Linked DNA regions of Homo sapiens. The protein of the gene in region 1 purifies or fractionates together with the protein of each later gene. This does not show direct contact. Each region holds a gene or a part of one and is shown in the gene's direction. Other genes may lie near its edges.

Evidence for each region. Proteins that work in one complex are often made in the same cells at the same time.
Region 2: the proteins of RAB32 (region 1) and CHM purify together in Homo sapiens (affinity purification with mass spectrometry; 4 studies listed by BioGRID and IntAct, with this or other methods). This does not show direct contact.
Region 3: the proteins of RAB32 (region 1) and CLTCL1 purify together in Homo sapiens (affinity purification with mass spectrometry; 3 studies listed by BioGRID and IntAct, with this or other methods). This does not show direct contact.

The regions. Positions count from the first base shown.
Region 1 is NC_000006.12:146,546,815-146,553,847, forward strand, and holds part of RAB32 (ras-related protein Rab-32), read left to right. Parts: intron 1-2,649; coding exon 2,650-2,927; intron 2,928-7,033. UniProt on the Homo sapiens protein: The small GTPases Rab are key regulators of intracellular membrane trafficking, from the formation of transport vesicles to their fusion with membranes.
Region 2 is NC_000023.11:85,953,533-85,960,565, reverse strand, and holds part of CHM (rab proteins geranylgeranyltransferase component A 1), read left to right. Parts: intron 1-1,588; coding exon 1,589-1,705; intron 1,706-2,590; coding exon 2,591-2,711; intron 2,712-4,187; coding exon 4,188-4,413; intron 4,414-7,033. UniProt on the Homo sapiens protein: Substrate-binding subunit of the Rab geranylgeranyltransferase (GGTase) complex.
Region 3 is NC_000022.11:19,232,694-19,239,726, reverse strand, and holds part of CLTCL1 (clathrin heavy chain 2), read left to right. Parts: intron 1-338; coding exon 339-452; intron 453-3,857; coding exon 3,858-4,031; intron 4,032-5,020; coding exon 5,021-5,218; intron 5,219-6,104; coding exon 6,105-6,305; intron 6,306-6,408; coding exon 6,409-6,561; intron 6,562-7,033. UniProt on the Homo sapiens protein: Clathrin is the major protein of the polyhedral coat of coated pits and vesicles. Two different adapter protein complexes link the clathrin lattice either to the plasma membrane or to the trans-Golgi network.

The DNA.
Region 1 (7,033 bases):
GTGAGAGGGCGAGGTAGTGAAGAAATTATGACGAATCTCTATGCTTGAAAGCTGTGGCAAGTATGATAGGCTAGAATTATCAAATGTTTTCTACACATGTAGCTAAGCAGATTCAGCTGAACTCTTCAGGTTAAGAACCACTGTGATCCTCAGATACACAAATCTGTTCTTACGGCATTGAAGGAATCTGGCTTTAAAATACAGATGCAGTTTAGTGCAGTTTTTGTGTTAGACAATTGCCATCTCTTAACTCACACGTACTTTAGGACTGCTGCTCAAAACATAACTGAAATATACTAAAATCTTGAAGTCTTTGATAACACTTTACAGAGATCTTAATAAATGCATACTCAAGATATAGCAAGAGATGTCTCTGATCTTCCTTTTAATGCTCAGTGTAGGTAAAGTAGTATTTGGTTTACTATTATATGCTTATTGCTTATTAGTCACTATAGCATTTTTCAGGCAAATTGAAAGACTGGTCTAGGTTAAATCTTAAAAAAACAAGTTTGTCCATTTAGGTCTAGTATACTTTAGCCTTCATGTATTGACTGAGTGATTTGCTTTTTAGGATCAACATTTTTTAATAAAAATCTGAATGAGTAACTCTCCTTTGGGCCAAAGGACAAATTGGGAACAGTCTGCTCTGAAGTTCATATAAATAATATTTACCCAAGCATAAAATGTGTGCTTGGAAGATATAAACTATATAATTTATGCCTAAACTTATTTTACATTGTTTTGATTCCCATCCAAAATAGAATGTGGATCCTGATTGCCTTGCTGCATCTTATACTTTGTCGATTAGTATACCTAGTAATATCCCTTTGTCTTTTTTTTCACAACTCTCCTATCATCTTTCATGAGCACGAGTAAAAGGAAATACTTGAAATTTACAGATGATTCACAAAAAAAAAAAAAAAAAAGCAACAGTCACTAAAGTTTAACAACTCTTTGTTAACTTCTAGGTTTCTAACTGTTCTTTTACTCATTTGTCACCCCACTCTCTTTTCTAAATTAAAGATATAGTCCAAAGGAATAGTTTATTACCATGTAATTATCTTGAAATCTTACTTTTTCAATTTCCTAATTTAAGACTGTCATATCTTGTTGCTTAGTCTTTTCATATTCAATAATTAAAATATATAAAAATGGAAGTGGTTGGTAATGTGTGCACTGCATTTGAAATTGGAGTCTGAATCATTTCAATGCATATAGTCTTTCTGCAGAATAGCGATTTTGAACAGTTGGCATATCATGTAAGTTTTTATAAATGTCAGCATTATGAGCCAATGAACTATATAATGGTCAGATTTACATCACAATAAAATATGAGCATAATAGTAGGGTTTCATATGTGACCATTTGTTACAGTAAAATTTAGACCTTTGGACTATTACAGTACAGCTTCAGTTAAACCATATGAGGAGTCATCACAAAACAAACCTTAAATTTATGCATTCACGTTTGACCATTGTTTTATTCTTCTTCCATTATTCCCTAAAACAATATATAAAATTATATTGCATTGTAGAGTTTGGAGAAGGAAGAATTTTATATTTTGGGGTATCTTTGCATCTGTGCAGAGAAAATGTGTCAATAAAATGTAGATAAAGCCTGTTGCTCATGTGTTTCAAGAAGAAAGTGTCTTTATCATAGAACAGAGTGATACATCTTAGATGTGCATTGATTGCCAATCATTTTTCCTTCACACTGTAGTCAGTAACTAAGTCAAGGCAACTGCAAGATAGTTCAGAAAGGCTAGCATCCCACTTCTATAGGTGTGTGGGAGTCAGAAGACCTGGATTCTAGTCCTGTCTTCTTTAGTCAGTGCCACTATAATCCTGGCCAAGCATCCATTTTCCTGTTGTTACATCTGTCAGATGAAAAGAAGGGTCTTTCCTATGCCAAAGATTAGTACAATAGCAGATAGTAAGAGAACGCTTTGCAAAGTCCTATATAATGTACAAAGCAGATTTTTCCCAAAGTGTTTGACATAAATTATTTTAAAAGTACAATGACATTTGAAGAACCCTGGAATTGATTCTTCTTGTAACAACACAACCAGTTGTGCCTTTTGTTCTGAAACAGATTTTCATGTATCTACTACTTACAGGGGTGAAATCTTGCATATTGAGTCAGAAGTGGGTATGGGCTAGAGATATGAAGGAGAGATGAGTTGAGAACATGAACTACTTTATCTCATGTCCAGCCCTAATCTATTTGACTAGCATGTTACCCACTGCACTTATCTCCTTCCTGCAGGCTTCATTTCTTCTATTCTTGTCTCTTCTTCCTCTACTTCCAGCTTTATGTTTTCCTTTAGTGCCTCTCTTCTCTTAGACTAAGGGGAGACGAGTCGGAATAAATGACAGACTTTGTAGCTTTAAATATTGTCATATTGGTTTTTATGGAGAATATGTTGTACAGAACATAAAACTAATTCATTATGTACTTAAACCAAATTATCAGACACATCTGCTCTATGGGTCATGGTCTGTATGGATAGCCTTAATCACACCAGGTTATATTGCTGTGGAATGGAAGACATTTGTTCATAGTGTTGCTCTTGGGGTAAAAGGGGTTATACCTAAATGTAGACTCTGTCTGAATTACAAGTTTTTAATTTTTTCTTATATTTATGTCTAGGGCAGGAGCGATTTGGCAACATGACCCGAGTATACTACAAGGAAGCTGTTGGTGCTTTTGTAGTCTTTGATATATCAAGAAGTTCCACATTTGAGGCAGTCTTAAAATGGAAAAGTGATCTGGATAGTAAAGTTCATCTTCCAAATGGCAGCCCTATCCCTGCTGTCCTCTTGGCTAACAAATGTGACCAGAACAAGGACAGTAGCCAGAGTCCTTCCCAGGTGGACCAATTCTGCAAAGAACATGGCTTTGCCGGATGGTTTGAAACCTCTGCAAAGGTGAGATCTGCTTTGCTTATGCATCTTTTGCTTTCTAGCTCATAATTCTGAGCTGTAAATGTAAAGTATTTAGATATATTTATGTGAGTGGTGTTTGAAAGTCTGGAAAATGAGAAGTGTAGCATGGATGTGTTATAGCTTCTTTCAGTCCACAACAGGACTGCTTTCCAAATTGGCTAATGGCTAATAGAAGGGCAGATTTTCCATCAAAACAAAAAGAATTATTTAGGGCAAAAAGCAAATGACATTTTCTGTGAGTTTGAGTTTTTAACTGAGGTACTTCTCATGCAACTAGAGTGGTTGGGGGTATTGTCAAGCACGAGAATTTTTGGTTTTTACAAAAGGCTAAGTGAATAGGAAGATGCCTCTGGTGAAGATGTGTGTCACATGCAGGACCATGTGAAAAGATCAGAGAGGAGATTTATTCAGATGATGTTTGAAGAGTTTTAGGTTAACTGTGTACGAAAGATTTGAAACAGCCAGAAAGTATCAACATTTGTGGTATGCTTCATAAACAGTAGAGTGAGAATTTTTTCTTTTGTCTATTATGGAAAGCTGAATAAAATATTTTCTGAAGGAAAAAATAAAACACTCAGTTGACTTTCAAAAATCTTAACAGTCTAGTGACCAGGCACGGTGGCTCATGCCTGTAATCCTAGCAGTCTGGGAGGCCGAGGCAGATGGATCGGGCAGATCGCTTGAACTGGGAGTTCGAGACCAGCCTGGGCAACGTGGCGAAACCCTGTCTCTGCCAAAAATACACAAAGTAGCTGAGCATGGTGGTGCATGCCTGTGGTCCTAGCTTCTCGGGAGGCTAAGGCAGGAGGATCACTTGAGTCTGGGAGGCAGAGGTTGCAGTGAGCCGAGATCATGCCACTGCACTCCAGCCTGGGTGACAAAGTGAGACCCCATCTCAAAAAAAAAAAAATCTTAATAGTCTAGATATAGAAAAAAGGTGAAAATTATACATATATAAAATGTTTGGGGGGGGGGTTACGTGCATTGGAACTTTCACATAAGGGGGTTAGTGACAATCAGATTTATGTAAGAATGATGAAATGTTTGAAAAATTCTGTGATGACAGATAAACATTATACCATAAATTTGTTGAAATCATAACACAGTTCTAGCTTTTAGTTTATGTTCTGTGGATTTCTTGTGTGTGTTTACGGGTGTTTTTATATATGTATGTATGTATGATTGTTCCTCCAAATCACCCACCTCATTCTGGATATTTACTAATCAGATTAGGTTTAGCTCTACTAGAAACTTACCCTTAGAGTGAAAAACTACTTGATGCCAATGATGATCTGCGGGATAAAAGCGAAGCAATGAGAGACTGCACAAAAGGAGACCGCTCCAAAAATATTGCGCAATGATGGAGTCACTGGGAAAAAAAAGACTGTCTACTGCAGGCAGAAATGTACACTCCTAAGCTAGAGGCTAATTGTTTGAATAAATATAGCATCTTAAAATTTCCTTTCATAAATAAAACATAGTGATAGAAGAAAGATGAAGCCCAGGAGTGCTATGTGAGCACTTAATCTGACACGAAGGAGAAAATCACAGAAAGAAAGCCTTCTTATAGAGAAGTCACCTCATTCTCCCAAGAAGCTAGGACCACAGGCATGTGCCACCATGCCCAGCTACTTTTTGCATTTTTAGTAGAGACAGAATTTTGCCGTGTTGCCCAGGCTGGACTCAAACTCCTGAGCTGGAGTGATCTGCCTGCCTCAGCCTCCCAAAGCACTAGGATTACAGGCGTGTTCTTCTGGACACTCATGCCCTCTGTCTGCTCTGTATGCCTATTGGGTGATTTGCTCTACTTGCCAGCTTTGCTGTAAAAAGACGAAAAAAAAAAAAGGGGCAGTAAGTATAACTGCTTATGCGAGTGTGCATTTTGGTGGAGGAGTTTTATAAATGATAGACAAAATTCCCCTTTAGGCTCTATTTAATCTTTCAGATAGTAAATCCAGATTTGCCCCCAGATGTAAGACGTCATGTGACTAGTAGCTTGTGACTGTGTAAGTCATCGGTTTCACTTTATGTATGGATAGGATTACACGCAGAGGTGAAAGGTGAAACGCTGGTTAAGAGTACAAGTTTCAAGTTTGCTCTGTGCTTCCATACAAATATAATAGAAGCAGCTTCTGTAGAATTTCCTTAGCAGTAAACCAGACGTGTTCCAAGAGAATAACAGTAATAAAAAAATTTAGGTTAAAAATCTTAGAGTTAAGGCTTAAAGTACTGCCTAAATGTCACTAAGGTACACTTCTGAGCTGGCCTGCAGCTAACTTCAGATCTGACTTTTGCTTGAATTGCAGTCATCCGAATTTCACTAGGAACATAGGCAAAAGATAACTTTTGCAAATAAATTTCATCATTTCACCTTTATGGCAAATAATGGATTTCTAATATGAAACTTTAATAATATTAACATATGGGAATTACATTAACATGTGACTAGTTACACTATCATTGGAATTTTAACCAACTGCTTCCAAATACAGTTAGAGAATTTTATAATTATTTGATATAATGGGGATAGCTGGGACTGAATGTCACTTGGACATTCAAAAGATCAATACTTGAATTAAAGTTAACACTTATCTTGGGAGTGGAGGTAAAAAATAAATAAAAAGCTTGTTTCAGTGCTATGAAAGATGCCTGTAAATAGCACAGCTGTTTTAGGTTTCTTGTTGTCTGAGAAAGGGTTTACAAATAAGGAAAAAGGCTACAATGAACCTCATAGCATTGGATTGGATTAGACATTAATATGAGCTTCAGGTTTCATATGTGTGTGTGTGTAAGAGTATATGCATATATATATGTGAGTGTGTATAGATATATGTATGTACACACACATATGTGTAAACAGATAAAGAAGTTGATACAGATGCATGTGTGTATACATACGTTTATTTACTAGCCATACCTGCTGAGAGGGCTTAAAAGGAATGACACCACAGAACCAATTAACTTACCTCGTGCTCAAAATTCGGTTTTTAAATATCATTCTCCAGTAAAAAGAATGGGAATCTCTAGAGAAATGCCTGATTTTAGGACGGGTGGAACAAGTCAAGTAAAGATGTGCCTGAGATATTTTGTTGTGCAAGAAACTAAGGAAATGCTTACAAAATGATGGGGACATGTGACAAAGATACAGGATACTGCCATACAAGCTCCAAACATGTAAGACAATTTGAGCAACAAACTAAATAATTACTGTAATGGGTTCAACTTATAGAGTAAACTAATAATCCATGATAAAAATGAACAAATGAATAAAGAAATGGGGGAGAAGGGAACCTCTTTCTTTTTTTATTTTTATTTTTTTATTATACTTTTAAGTTTTAGGGTACATGTGCACAACGTGCAGGTTAGTCACGTATGTATACATGTGTGGAACCTCTTTCTAACAGTAGAATTCCAGCTAATAAATGTAGAAGGAATGGCAGAAATAAAAAAGTCACCATTAAACACCACAGTGATGATTGTTGTAGGGAGGAATTAATTGATGATAACATTAGTGGGGAAAAGTGCGGTGAGAAACAGGATATTTACATATTTGCACTAAGTACAAAGGGAAAAATAATAACTTTTCTGTGGAGAAACATGGCAAAAACAACTTGAAGCAGTGTGCTTCCTGATAAACTGTGCAGGGTACATCACTTGTGTTTTATTTCTGCCAAAAATACATACGTTGAATTTAATGATAAGGAAACATCGAACATCACAGATGGAGGTATATTCACCGGCCAGTGCTCTCTGAGAGTGTCAAGGTCATGAAAAGCAAGGAGAGTGAGGAACTGTTCGAGAGTAAAAGAGACCAGGGCGACAACAGTGAAATATAGCTTATGATCCTGGATCTGAAATAGGGCATTGAGATAATTGATGCAATTTGAGTAAGCTTTTTAGGCTAGCACTGATACAACACTATTATGTAATTTCCTGATTTTGATAGTTGTATTCTGGTTATCTAAGATGTTAACATTTGAGAAATATGTGTGAATGGTAGGAATGTTTACTTTTTTTGCAATGTTTTTGTAAATCCAAAATTATTTAAAAATGAACAGTTAAATATATTTAAAAATAAGCACAGTTTT
Region 2 (7,033 bases), on another chromosome or scaffold:
TGTAATGCCAGCTACTCGGGAGGCTGAGGCAGGAGAATCGCTTGAACCTAGGAGACAGAGGTTGCAGTGAGCTGAGATTGAGCCACTGCACTCCAGCCTGAGCAGCAGAGAGACTCTGTCTCAATAAAAAAAAAAGAAAAAGAGGCTTAGATTCTGATATGTACACATTTATTATTTGTGAGCTTCAGAAACAAAAATCTAGTATAATTTTAATTGAAATTTGTTTTTGTTCTTGTGATATCTTAAATGCATTATTTTTCAAGCTGGCATTAAACCTTAAGGTTTATTGGATCTTATTAAATAAAAATGCAGTTTCATATTTTATATCTTAATGTTTGTGACATTATTATGGCTATGCAGGGATCCTTGAGTCTCAAATGTGTATCTTTTTAAACAAGTGATTTTTGAAGTAACTATTTTTTATCATTATTATAGAGTTAAGAATTGGCAATATATTCTTTAAAACATGGTCTCTTTCAGTAATGTAGTGTGTTAGGAAGAGGGTAATGAAGTAACGTGCCATATTTAATCAGGATGATCAGATTAGCTTCAAAAAAGTGATGTCAATTTTGTTTTGCAGAATGCTGAACTATTAGTTTATAAAATTTTACTTGAATGGTATTGATTTACTGATAGTCTTTACTGACTTATTAGTTGCTCAGACTAATGGTTTAGATTGATTTTTGAGATTCCTTTTTCTTTGTATAGTAAAGCTAATTTTCCCATTTATTTATTATAGATGTAACATTCATTTTTAATATTTATTGAGTTATAGGCATTAAGAGTATCTTAATATAGGAAATAGTCAAATCTGTTGCATTTAACCATACGGTTAACATGCTAGATAATACTGTTTACATTATTGATTTTATCTCTCTGATATTACTTATGAGATGTTGAAAGATTAAATCAATTTCTCCCATACATGCCAGCAATAATCATCATCTTCACTTTTTGAGAAAGACATATCTCATATAAACCCAGACTTCTAGAATTACAGAAGTACCTTATAATTTGACTTTTTCAGTGTAAATGCATCACAAATATTTTTTTCTTTTTTTGATGGGGTAGGGAGGTTCACTGGACTGATTTCTTCTTATAACTACCTGGCTTTGTGTAAGACTATAGATTCTTATCCAAAACCCTCAGGGCCTGGTGTATTCTATCATTAAGATTAAAAAAATATATTTTAGAAAGTAATGAAGTACATATACTGATATGTTATATGTTAGGTTAAATTATTAGCAGGGTCTGAGGAGGAACTCTAACTAAACACATTATTTCTGCAGTGAAATATATGAATATTTATGTTAATTTGGACAAACAAAGCCAGAGTGCCTTATCAGTATGGATCAGGTTTTGCTGCTAAACATGTTTTGTAAAAACTTATGGATTGCAAAGTTTTTTGAATTTTGAATTTCAGCTAATCAATTCTGAGCCTGTAATAGATTGTGTTATGTATTATAATATTTATAGGTATGATTGTTTCTACAAATAATAAAAAATATAGCAAAATTATGTATCTTTATTGTTTTCCAATTTTTCTACTATTTCAACTTTTATCTTGTAAAATATTTTCTTTGTACAGCTGCTGTATTCTCGAGGATTACTAATTGATCTTCTAATCAAATCTAATGTTAGTCGATATGCAGAGTTTAAAAATATTACCAGGATTCTTGCATTTCGAGAAGGACGAGTGGAACAGGTACTGTGCTGATCAAGAATTGTAACTGGGCATCAGCTTAAGTTATTATGGTTTGTTTTGGAAAGATAAGCAAATAAGATTGTTATTTTCCTCATAAAGCAGTAAATTCCAGTCCTCCGTGGTGATTTACAAATGTAAATGCTTAATTAAAATTTCTAGTGCTAATTTTCTCATGGCTTACTCTGCAGCTTGGTGTTGGTACCAAGCAGCACACAAAAAACCAAAAAGCACACCAGAGTTACTATACCCAAGACTAGTCACACAAATCCTTTTCTCCCATTAATCAAGATTTTGGAGAGGGAAAAGAAAGAAACGGTGATTTTTGCTGTCCACTTGATCAGATTCCACACAGAGGAGGAGGCCCGGAGCCTGGTTGGGAAAAAATTCTTACCCTTATGACAGCTGATCAGATCCTGGGTTCTTCACTGCAGCTTCCAGAAGAGCAGAGCTTTGCTATCCTGCTCACAGCACCAAAACTGTAGGGGCCAAGGGAAACACTCCCTCTTAAGCCTCTGAAGTTTCACTGAAAAATCAACTCACAAAGGCAGATTAATTGGAGAAAAGGCATAAAAATGTACTAACATGTACATAGGGAGAACCACAGTGTTTGTTTTAGATAGCACTGCTAAATTTTTCTCTGTTAGGATGACATGCCGTTGGCCTTTTAATGGCATGGGGAGTAACTTGGCAGAATTAAGTAAGAAAGCTCACAATTAGCTCTGAAGTTAGCAGAGATGCCATTAGTACTGATGGACGGTGATGTGAAAAAGCCTGGCTAGAGTGGAAACGATAATCCTGTTATATGTAAAGGGGAAAAAAGTGTAATTTGGAATAGTTATATCATTAGGAAGCAGTTTCTTAACTTAAAATCATAATATTTTTCAGGTTCCGTGTTCCAGAGCAGATGTCTTTAATAGCAAACAACTTACTATGGTAGAAAAGCGAATGCTAATGAAATTTCTTACATTTTGTATGGAATATGAGAAATATCCTGATGAATATAAAGGTATTTTTTTCATTAAGTAGTGCTCTCCAATTATTTGACATTTCTTACTATTTTAATATGCTTGCTCTGATTTAGTGAGCCACTTATTACTGTTTTAAAATGCATTCTAACTCTGCACTATCAATAGGTTAGCCATTAGTAACATTTAGCTATTTAAATTTAAATTAATTAAAGTGAAATAAAATAAAATAAATTCAGTTTCTCAGTCTTATTAGCTGTATTTCAAGGGCTCCCATAGCCCCATGTGGCTACAGTGCAGATATTTTCATTGCTGAAGTGGCATGCTAGATTTTAATTTTTATTCTTATTATTTAAATACTACTGTCAACTGGCTCTTCATAGATGATAATCTGTTTTCATGATTCCATTATTTTTTCTCATAAGTAAAAATACTATATATTTTATCATTTTCCAGGATTGCTTTTGCATAGAATCTTGAACTATTTCGTTTGAAAAAAAAAGGCTAGATGGTATATGGGGAAAAATACTGGATTCAGAAAAGGCATGGTTTCTATTCTTGGCTTTGACCTATTTCATTATGTGATCTGGGGCCAGTTACTTCATTGTCTGTTAAAAATTGAATATGCCATTTTAGTGTCAGAGCTATATACTTTAAGTCCATTGGTCTGAAAATGTTATCCAAAATTGGAATATACTATTGATAATTTATTTATAAAGTTACAATGAGAAGTGCAGCGATATTTTTTTTCCTCTGTGAAATAATGAAAGTCTAATCCTTGCTCTTAAAGCTTCAAGTCTACTAGGTACTGTCATGTTGTTATCCACAGTGGCTGTGTAAAATTCAATTCTCTCAGTAAATTTTCATAATTTTTATTTATGTAAATTATTTCTGTAAAGTTTTTGTCTTTTATCATGGGATTTATTTCCCACCACTAACAGTCCAATTACATTATATTCTGTTCTTGGTTTAAAGGAGTAACTTCTGGGGGTCCCGTATGTTTTGATGTGATTATGTGGCCATAAGACTGATTCCAGTAGCCACATGGAAATTCATTTCATTATTTTTTAGTTTATTTTCTGAGTATCAGTGAGAAGTATACGTTTTACAAAACTCACATATTTATCATTTTAAATCAATACATTCCCATGTTGTCATAGTTGTTTAATATTTTCAGTACCATTATTGGCATTATCCTGCAGGTTTCATGATAATAAAGTGAGATTATTGCCAACTATGACAACCCATTGAGTTATTTAATATTTTCTAGTTTTTTTTAAATCCATGAAATGCTCAATCATAATTCATCATTTAAAGCTAAAAATTGTGCCATTACTCCAAATAAGAGAGAGAGATTGTTTCCATTTTTTCCTAAGATCAACCATCAGTGTCCAAAATGTAATACCACCTATGTCCTTTGTGAGGTCTGTGAAACACACTTCATCTCCTTTTTGTGGGGTGGTTTTAAATAGAAGTTTAGTTCTGATTTTAAGTGATAAAATTTCATCTTTTCATAGGATATGAAGAGATCACATTTTATGAATATTTAAAGACTCAAAAATTAACCCCCAACCTCCAATATATTGTCATGCATTCAATTGCAATGACATCAGAGACAGCCAGCAGCACCATAGATGGTCTCAAAGCTACCAAAAACTTTCTTCACTGTCTTGGGCGGTATGGCAACACTCCATTTTTGTTTCCTTTATATGGCCAAGGAGAACTCCCCCAGTGTTTCTGCAGGTAAGTTTGCCATTGATTTTCTTGTCCCTTCTAAAAGTGATACTTGAATAACAGATGAAAATTAGGCAGGCAAAAATGAGATTTATTCAAGATTTAGTATATGCAAATATATACTTTATTCTATTTATTTTTTATAATCTATTTACCTACCTATCTACCCACCTAAGTGATATATTCAGTGTGGCCTCTTTTTGAGCTTGATAAAAATACTATAAATTCCTTTTTCCACTCAATAGCATGATGGAAAGTATTGTCATTGCATATAATTTTAGTTAATTTTTTATTACTATATAGTATGTTATTGTGAATACACCACAATCTATTTTTTCATTTTTCTGTTGATGAACACAGGATGTTTCCAGTTTTTTGAGGTTAACACCCTTGTGTATGTTTCAAGTTGTGTATGTTCAAGAATTTCTCTCGGAAACATATCTAGGGGTGGAATTCCCCAGTCCTGAGATACATGAATGTTAACACTTTACAACATCGTGTTCAGTTATTTCTCTAGAGGGCTGTACCAATTATAACCTTTTAGCCGTACATAAGAATACCCAAAGCTTTACATGTTTGCCAACATTTAAAATTTTTTTGTCAACCTAACTCACATAAATTATCATTGCATTGGATTTTTATTTTTCATTTCCCTAATTACCTATGAAGTTGAACCTTTTCTCATATGTTTACTGGCCATTCATGTTTTATCTTCAGGGAATACTTGTTTGTGTCTTTTTTTGTTTGTTTTACACATTTTTAAAAATTTTTATTTTTTGTGGGTACATAGGAGGCATATGTGTTTGTGGGGTACATGAGATAGTTTAATACAGGCATGCAAAGTGTAATCCATCATGGTAAATGGAGTATCCATCCCTTCACACATTTATCCTTTGTGTTGAAAACAATCCAATTATACTCTTCATTTTAACATGTACAATTAAATCATTATTGACTGTAGTCACTCTGTTGTAATATCAAACACTAGATTTTATTCATTCTTTCTAACTACGTTTTGTACCTATTAACCATTCCTACTTATCCGCTGCCCCCTCAAAACCCGCCCCAGGCTCTGATAACCATCCTTTTACTCTCTGTCTCCATATGTTTAATTGTTTTAATTTTTAGCTCCCGCAAGTAAGTGAGGATATGCATTGTTTGTCTTTCTGTGGCTGGCTTATTTCACTTAATATAATGACCTCCAGTTTCATCCATGTTGTCATGTTGTTGCAAATGTCAGGGTCTCATTCTTTTGTTTTTTTTTTTTTGGGAGATGGAGTCTTGCTCTGTCACCCAGGGTGGAGTGCAGTGGTGTGATCTCGGCTCACTGCAACCTCTGCCACCCAGGTTCAAGTGATTCTCCTGCCTCAGTCTCCTGAGTAGCTGGGATTACAGGCACGTGCCACCACACCTGGCTAATTTTTGTATTTTTAGTAGTGATGGAGTTTCAGCATCTTGGCCAGGCTAGTCTTGAACTCCCGACTTTGTGATCCACCCATCTCAGCCTCCCAAAGTGCTGGTATTACAGGCGTGAGCCACCATGCCCAGCCAGGATCTCGTTCTTTTTATGGCTGAGTATTACTCCAAGGTGTAACTGTACTACATTTTCTTTATCCATTTATCTGTTGCTGGGCACTTAGGTTGCTTCCAAATCTTGGTTATTGTGAACAGTGCTGCGACAAATGTGGTATGTAGATATCCCTTTGATACACTGATTTCCTTTCTTTTGGGTATATACCTAGCAGTGGGATTGCTAGATCGTATGGTAGCTCTATTTTTACTTTTCTGAGGAACTTCCAAACTGTTCTCCACAGTGGTTGTACTAATTAACACTCCCACCCACAGTGTTCAAGGGTTCCCTTTTCTCCGTATCTTTGCCAGCATTTGCTAGTGTCTTTCTTTTGAATAAAAGTTATTTTAACTGGGGTAATAAAATATCTCATTGTAATTTTGATGTGCATTTCTCTGATGATCAGTGATGTTGAACACCTTTTTATATGTCTCCTTGTCATTTGTATGTCTTCTTTTGAAAAATGTCTATTCAGATCTTTTGCCCAATTTTTAGTCATATCATTAGATTTTTTTCCTGTAGAGTTGTTTGAGCTACTTATATATTCTGGTCATTAATTCCTTGTTAGACGGGTAGTTTGCAGATATTCTCTTTCATTCTGTGGGTTGTCTTTTCACTTTGTTTATGGTTTCTTTTGCTGTGCAGAAACTTTTTAACTTCATGTGTTCCCGTTTGTCCATTTTTGCTTTAGTCGCCTGTGCTTGTGGGGCATTGCTTAAGAAATCTTTGCCCAGACCAGTGTCTTGGAGGTTTTCTCCGATGTTTTCTTGTAGTAGTTTCAAAGTTTGAGGCATTAGATTTAATTCTTTAATCCATTTTGATTTGCTTTTTATATACTGCAAAAGATAGGGGTCTAGTTTCATTTTTCTGCATACAGATATCCAGTTACCCCAACACCCTTTATGGAAAAGACTGTCTTTTACCCAGTGTATATTCTTGGCACCTTTGTCAAAAATGAGTTCACTGTAGGTGTGTGGATTTGTTTCTGGGTTCTCTATTCTGTTTTTTTGGTTTATGTGTCTGTTTTTATGCCAGTACCATGCTGTTTTGGTGACTATA
Region 3 (7,033 bases), on another chromosome or scaffold:
CAGAGAGCAGAGTTGGAAGGGACAGCAGATTCTGACTGGAGCCCTTTGTTTCATCGGCATCCAGGCCCGGGGAGGGGAAGTGACTCTGCCACTGTGCTGGAACTGAGGCTCCAGGCTGCCTGGCATTGGCCCTTTGTGCCATGCTTGGTGGTGGGCAGCAGGTTATTGGATAATCACAGGCACTCCGACAAGGGGGTTGTTCTGCTTTGGTTGAATGTGACTTTTAGCGTTAATCATCCAGTGTGTGGAGCTGAGGCTCCACTTGCCTCTGTGCCTTGACTAGCACTTGCCCACCACCACAGGCGGTCCCCTTGATTGACCTAAAATCTCTCTTCTAGTTGCACATCATTGAAGTTGGACAGCCTGCAGCGGGAAACCAACCTTTTGTAAAGAAAGCAGTAGATGTGTTTTTTCCTCCAGAGGCACAGAATGATTTTCCAGTGGCTATGCAGGTACGAATGTGCTGCTCTCTAAACATCTTCATGTCCTAAAATCTACTCTAGCACCTCCCAAGATACAGGAGGCTGCCATTTTTAGTCTGCTTCTGCTGTCTCCTGCCACTGTGATGCTTTCAAACCCATTTAGAGGCCTAAGGCTTTGGCGTGTGAGCTGGGAAAGCCCTGTTCGTAGAAAGGAATGCCCGGCATGAGGGTGAGTTAGGGCAGCAGGAAGACGTTGCCAAGTCACACATCAAAGTCCTCAGCTCTTTCCTTCTTATTATAAAAGATTAGATGTTCACTGTGGTATGAGAATATTTAAAGAATAAAATACCTAATGTAGGTGACGGGTTAATGGGTGCAACAAACCACCAGGGCACGTGTATACCTGTGTAACAAAACTGCACGTTCTGCACATGTAACCCAGAACTTATAATAATAAAAAAAAGAATAAAACACTTATTTCCTTTACAATTGGCTGCCATTGAGGGAGCCTAGAGCTCCCAGGGACAGTCCTTTGAGCTGGCATTCAGAATGGCCCAGCCTTTGACACGCAGCCTCTAGTGAAACTAGGTAGTCCCAAGCCCCTGGTGGGAGAATTATTCACCTTTACATCAAGAAGGTTGGGAAAACACCTGAACCTGCATGTGGCATGTGCCTAGCCAGACTTCGAGGAGTTCGTGCTATGAGACCTGAAGTTCTTGTGAGGTTCCCTAAAACAGAAACACATGTCAGCAGGGCCTGTGGTGGTTCCGTGTGTGCTAAGTGTGTTCGTGACAGGATCAAGTGTGCTTTCCTTATTGAGGAGCAGAATATTGTTGTGGAAGTGTCAAAGGCACAGAGTCAGAAAACATTCCTCTGTAGATAAACCAGTTGGATGTAAAATATATAAGAAATCTTGGCCGGGCGCGTTGGCTCACACCTGTCATCTTAGCACTTTGGGAGGCCGAGGCGGGCAGATTGCCTGAGCTCAGGAGTTCGACGCCAGCCTGGGCAACATGGTGAAACCCCGTCTCTACTAAAATATAAAAAATTAACTGGGCATGGCGGTGTGCACCTGTAGTCCCAGCTACATGGGATGCTGAGGCAGGAGAATTTCTAGAACCCAGGAGGCAGAGAGTGCAGTGAGGCAAGATCACACCACTGCATGCCACTGCACCGCGGCCTGGAGCAAGACTTCATTTCCAAAAAATAAATAAATAAATAAATAAGAATAAAAATAAAAAATCTTACAATTTGTTTTATAAAAAATTTAGATCTATACCTTTTCTGAACAAAATTGGCATCACATTATATATGTAAGATTATATAATCTACTCTCCTTTTTACTCTTTTGTTCTCATAAAATATATGTTATCTGTACATTTCTAATAATATCAATAAATGTAACAGCAGGATTAAATATCACCTGAAATCCTAGCACTGCTGATAATTTGGCTACCCCTTTGGAAGTAACTTAACATGCATACATTTGTGCAGATTTATACAGATGGACTCTTATGAAAATGGCTCTGCACTAGCCTTGCTGCTGTATAAACTCCTCTAGCTATGTTGTAGATCATTCTGTTCCAGTAACATAATGTATGTATTTTATTGTCTGTGTCATCTGTTCTGTGGATTTGCTACAACTCATTTAAACAATCCCCTGTTGATTGGTATTTACATTTACAAGAAACACTATAAGGAACATTGTGCTCCATACATCTTTGTATGTTAGTCTAAAAGTCCGAGGATAAATTCCTAGAAATTAAACTGCTGGGTCAGGGGCACACTCTCATCACAGACTCTCCTGACCATGCTGGCCAGTTCACATTCCTACTGATGCTGCCGGTGGTAGCTGGACAGCATCCCATGTTGTGATGTCTTTCCCTTGGTTACCATCAAGGCAGAATTGATGTATCAGCCACTCATATGTATCCGGTTAATTGCCTTTTCCTAATCTTTGCATTTTTTTTCTATTGGGATCTTTTTTTAAAAAGTAGAGATGGGGTCTTGCTATGTTGCCTAGGCCAGTCTTGAACTCCTGGCCTCGAGCGATCTTCCTGCCTCAGCCTCCCAAGCAGCTGGGGTTACAGGTGTGTGTCACTGTGCCCAACTCCAGGATTTTTACCTTATTCGTAAGAGCTTTTTGTACTTGTAGAGTACTAAGTGTCTGATGTATTTTGAATATTTTTCCCAGTCGTAATTTGTGATATGTGGCACCTTATGGAAGTGCTGCATTTTTGTGTGGCAGTGGTATCATGTTTTGAGACTAATTCTGCACCTGAAGATGATCACAACATTTACCTATATTTTCTTTCATTCCTATCCTAATTGTCCTTGTTTTTTATTTAAAATCTTTGACCCATCTGGAATTTACTTTGATCTAAAGAGTAAGATAGAAATTCAGTTCTTTACTCTTACCTCCATCTCCAGATAGCTAGCTAACTATATTAATAATATATGTTATATATTGATTAAAGTGCCTATTTTCCACTAATATGTTACCTACTAATTATTTATTTTTCTAGAGTTGGAGTCTTGCTACGTTGCCCAGGTTTGACTCAAACTCCTGGGCTCAAGTGATCCTCCTGCCTTGGCTTCCCAAGTAGCTGGGACTATAGTCATTAGCCACCACACACTCATTCTTAATAAATTCTCATATATGATTCATTCTCTTTCAGGGCTCTTAATTATTTTCTCTCTCTGTCTCTTCCAGTGGTAAAATCATACTTCAAAAATTACTGTCTGTTTTAATATATATGTTTAATAATCTGGTTGGGCAAATGCATCTGTTTTTTCTCCCCAGCCCCTTCAGGTTTTCTTGTGTGTTAAATATTTTTCTGTAAAAGTTAATAGCATTTGGCAAAACTCAAAGGTTAATAAGTGGTGGTAGAAGGCATGCTGGAACATCATCTTGGCGTTTGAGGTCTTTGTCCAGAACTTTCCCCTTCTCTTATGAACTCACAGCTTGCTTAAAGGGGTTCGATAAACTGTGAAAGGATCGCTCTACCTGAAAGATAAATGGAGTAGCCTGAGTTTATTGGACCTTTATTTGAGAGTGGTTGGACAAAATATTGTCTTTAAAACTAATTCTCAATCAAGTACAACTTAGAATCCATGTCTCAGGAAAGCATTGCTCCCACCAGTAATCTCTCGGCCTGAGAAACTGAAGAATCCTTGTATAGCTAGGTGTGGCAGCTCACACTTGTAGTCCCAGCTACATTGGAGGCTGAGATGGGAGGATCACCTGAGCCCAGAGGTCGGAAGTTGCAGTGAGCTATGGTGGCACCACTACACTCCAGCCTGGGTGACAGAGCACGACCCTATCTCAAAAAACAAACAAACAAACAAGAATCCTCTTTATCATTTGTGAGCTCTTTTTACCCGCATGGCTTCTCCTCCTTACTTTCCAACCTCTTGCTCTCTGTCTTCTTATAGATTGGAGCTAAACATGGTGTTATTTACTTGATCACAAAGTATGGCTATCTTCATCTGTACGACCTAGAGTCTGGCGTGTGCATCTGCATGAACCGTATTAGTGCTGACACAATATTTGTCACTGCTCCACACAAACCAACCTCTGGAATTATTGGTGTCAACAAAAAGGGACAGGTGTGTAACTCTGACATTTCATTTTCTACCTTTTCCATTCATTAGGGACTGGCGTTTAAACTTTCCCCCTTCTCTAGGAAAGCAGCTGGGTGTAGCTATTAATAGTTCCTGTTATTAAACTTAAACCCATGTCTCCTCCTTCATATTGACACTTCCTCTCTTCAGACAGCACCATTCCTAACACAGGATTGATTCCAGGAGGAGAGCAGCTCCTTCCTGCGTATAGAACAGCAGTTCTGATGCACATCATCTTTATACCATGCACACCCTAACTGGGGAGGGTTGAAAAAGCAGATACTATGGTATTTAAGTAACTTTTCTCAACCATAGTTGAAAAAGATAGTTAAAAGAAGAAACTCTTGGCTGGGCACAATAGTTTATGCCTGTAATCCCAACTGCATGGGAGGTTGAGGCAGGAGGATGGCTTGAGCCCAGGAGTTTGAGGCTGCAGTGAGCTGTGATCACACCATTGCACTCCAGCCTGGGTGAAACAGTGAGAGCCTGTCTCAGGGGAAAAAAAAAAAAAAGTCGGGAACAGTGGCTGATTCCTATAATCCCAGCACTTTGGAAGGCTGAGACAGGAGGATTGCTTGAGGCTAGGAGTTTGAATCCAGCCTGAGCGACATAGTAAGACCCTGTCTCTACAAAAATATTTTTTAAAAAAGAAAGAAACTCTGTACTTTAAAAATAAAAAGTTTAAGAAGAAAAATTGTCAGTTCCATCCACATAGGTCATTTTGCTGTAGCGCAGAACGCATCACACTTATCTGTGTGACTTTAATAACTACATAGACTCCTATGCTGTTCTGTTTTGTTACCATTTGGCTTTCGGCTGCTTTGCCTCCTTTCACTGTGAGGGCCACCATCACAGGTGTGCTCAACACTCGCCTGAGAATGTGGCTACCACTCCAGCATCGGAAGGGAACATGGCAGAGGGATGGTGGAGCACTCTTCTAGGCCGGGCTGCTCTCACTTGTTGTGTCCTTACAGGTACTGTCAGTTTGTGTTGAGGAAGATAACATTGTGAATTATGCAACCAACGTGCTTCAGAATCCAGACCTTGGTCTGCGTTTGGCCGTTCGTAGTAACCTGGCTGGGGCAGAGAAGTTGTTTGTGAGAAAATTCAATACCCTCTTTGCACAGGGCAGCTATGCTGAAGCCGCCAAAGTTGCAGCGTCTGCACCAAAGGTGATAAACCTTGAATACTGTTCAAGTGTTCTGAGTGTTAAGAACCAACCTTGAGAGGAAAATAAGTCATAAAAGCATTTCACTAGTGATATTGCAGTCTATTAGTGTTATGTTAGGAGTTTTTAGTTTAAAATTTTTGCACCAATGGCATAACAGTAAAGGAAGTAAACAAAAAACACACTCTTGCTGCATCGGCACTTCTTCACGCCTCCCACTTTGTGTGCATACGTACCTCTCACCCAACAGCTTAGATACAGTTTCACATTTCTGTAACTTAGCATTTTCCACTCTTGCTACCTGGTTGTCAAATATGCAACTGTACAATACATCAAGTGGTTGTTCCCTGTTTTATCTAGCGATAGTCCTACCCTGGACTTTCTCCACTCTTTTAGAATATAGCATTTCGGCATATGGCTTTTTCTTGGGTTTATTTCATTTGGATAAATTGTTCAGAGACTGGATCTGTTCCTGAGTAGATAAAGACTTTCAAGTTGCTTGTCCTTGAAAGAATTTTTCTTGTCTTTCAAGGGGTAGTTGTGAACAAACCATTTCTAGCCTTCATCTGTGAATTTGAGTATTTTGAATTAGAATATAATGATAGCAGAACTTCACTACTACAAGACTGATTGAGAGGCCGAATTCTTACTGCAGCATGCTGGGGGAGAAGTAAGACCCTAAGTGTGAAGCCACCTGGAGGACCTAGATTCCCCTATACTTATGGTTATTGTTGAAGATAGAAGCAGTTGCCTTGGTAGAGGACTTTTTGTCTATGACAGAGCAGTGTGGAATTTCCACTGGCAGATTTTTGTTTTTACATACAAGGAAGTTGAGTGAAGGGATCCCCTGTGATTACAACACAATGACCTATTTTTCCATTTATTATTAGGGAATCCTGCGTACCAGAGAGACGGTCCAGAAATTCCAGAGTATACCCGCTCAGTCTGGCCAGGCTTCTCCATTGCTGCAGTACTTCGGAATCCTGCTCGACCAGGGTCAGCTCAATAAACTTGAATCCTTAGAACTTTGCCATCTGGTTCTTCAGCAGGGGCGTAAGCAACTCCTAGAGAAGTGGCTGAAAGAAGATAAGGTAGAAACACTTGTGAGCTCGTAGCCCCCCCGCACAGCTTGAAAACTTGGTCCAGGCTCCCTACCTGCCTCCTAACTTTGCCTTGTCCCTTGGCATACCACAGCTGGAGTGCTCAGAGGAGCTCGGAGACTTGGTCAAAACCACTGACCCCATGCTCGCTCTGAGTGTGTACCTTCGGGCAAATGTGCCAAGCAAAGTGATCCAGTGTTTTGCAGAAACAGGCCAATTCCAGAAAATTGTGCTCTATGCCAAAAAGGTAACGTGTGTTGAACCACTGGCATCTCACAGATTACTCACGTGTGGTTGAGTGGTTGCTGATTTTAAAGTTTATAAAATACCCTTCTTTGTAAGTCCTCTGGTGTGAGAGTTGGCAATGTTGCTGTTAGGATCTTTATTCATAATGATCATATTTTATTCTCTTCAGCTTTTTATTATCCTTAGTTTTCCAGTCCTTCCATCTTCGTTTTATTTGGGAGCTTTATCTTGTTTTTTCTCTCCCTCTCTTCCTTCTGTATGTTAATTTGATATTTTGGCAGACTCCCAGATCTTATCCCTGTGTGCTTACTGGCAGGCTGTGTTTGCACACAGATCAGGAAACTTCTTTGTGGTCTGGGCTCTTTGTATAGTTAATTGTGCCTTCCATGTACATTAAATCAATTCATTTAATTGGATATTGTGTTTGGCAGAAGGTGGTACCTACACATGATAATGTTGCTGCTCATTTCTTT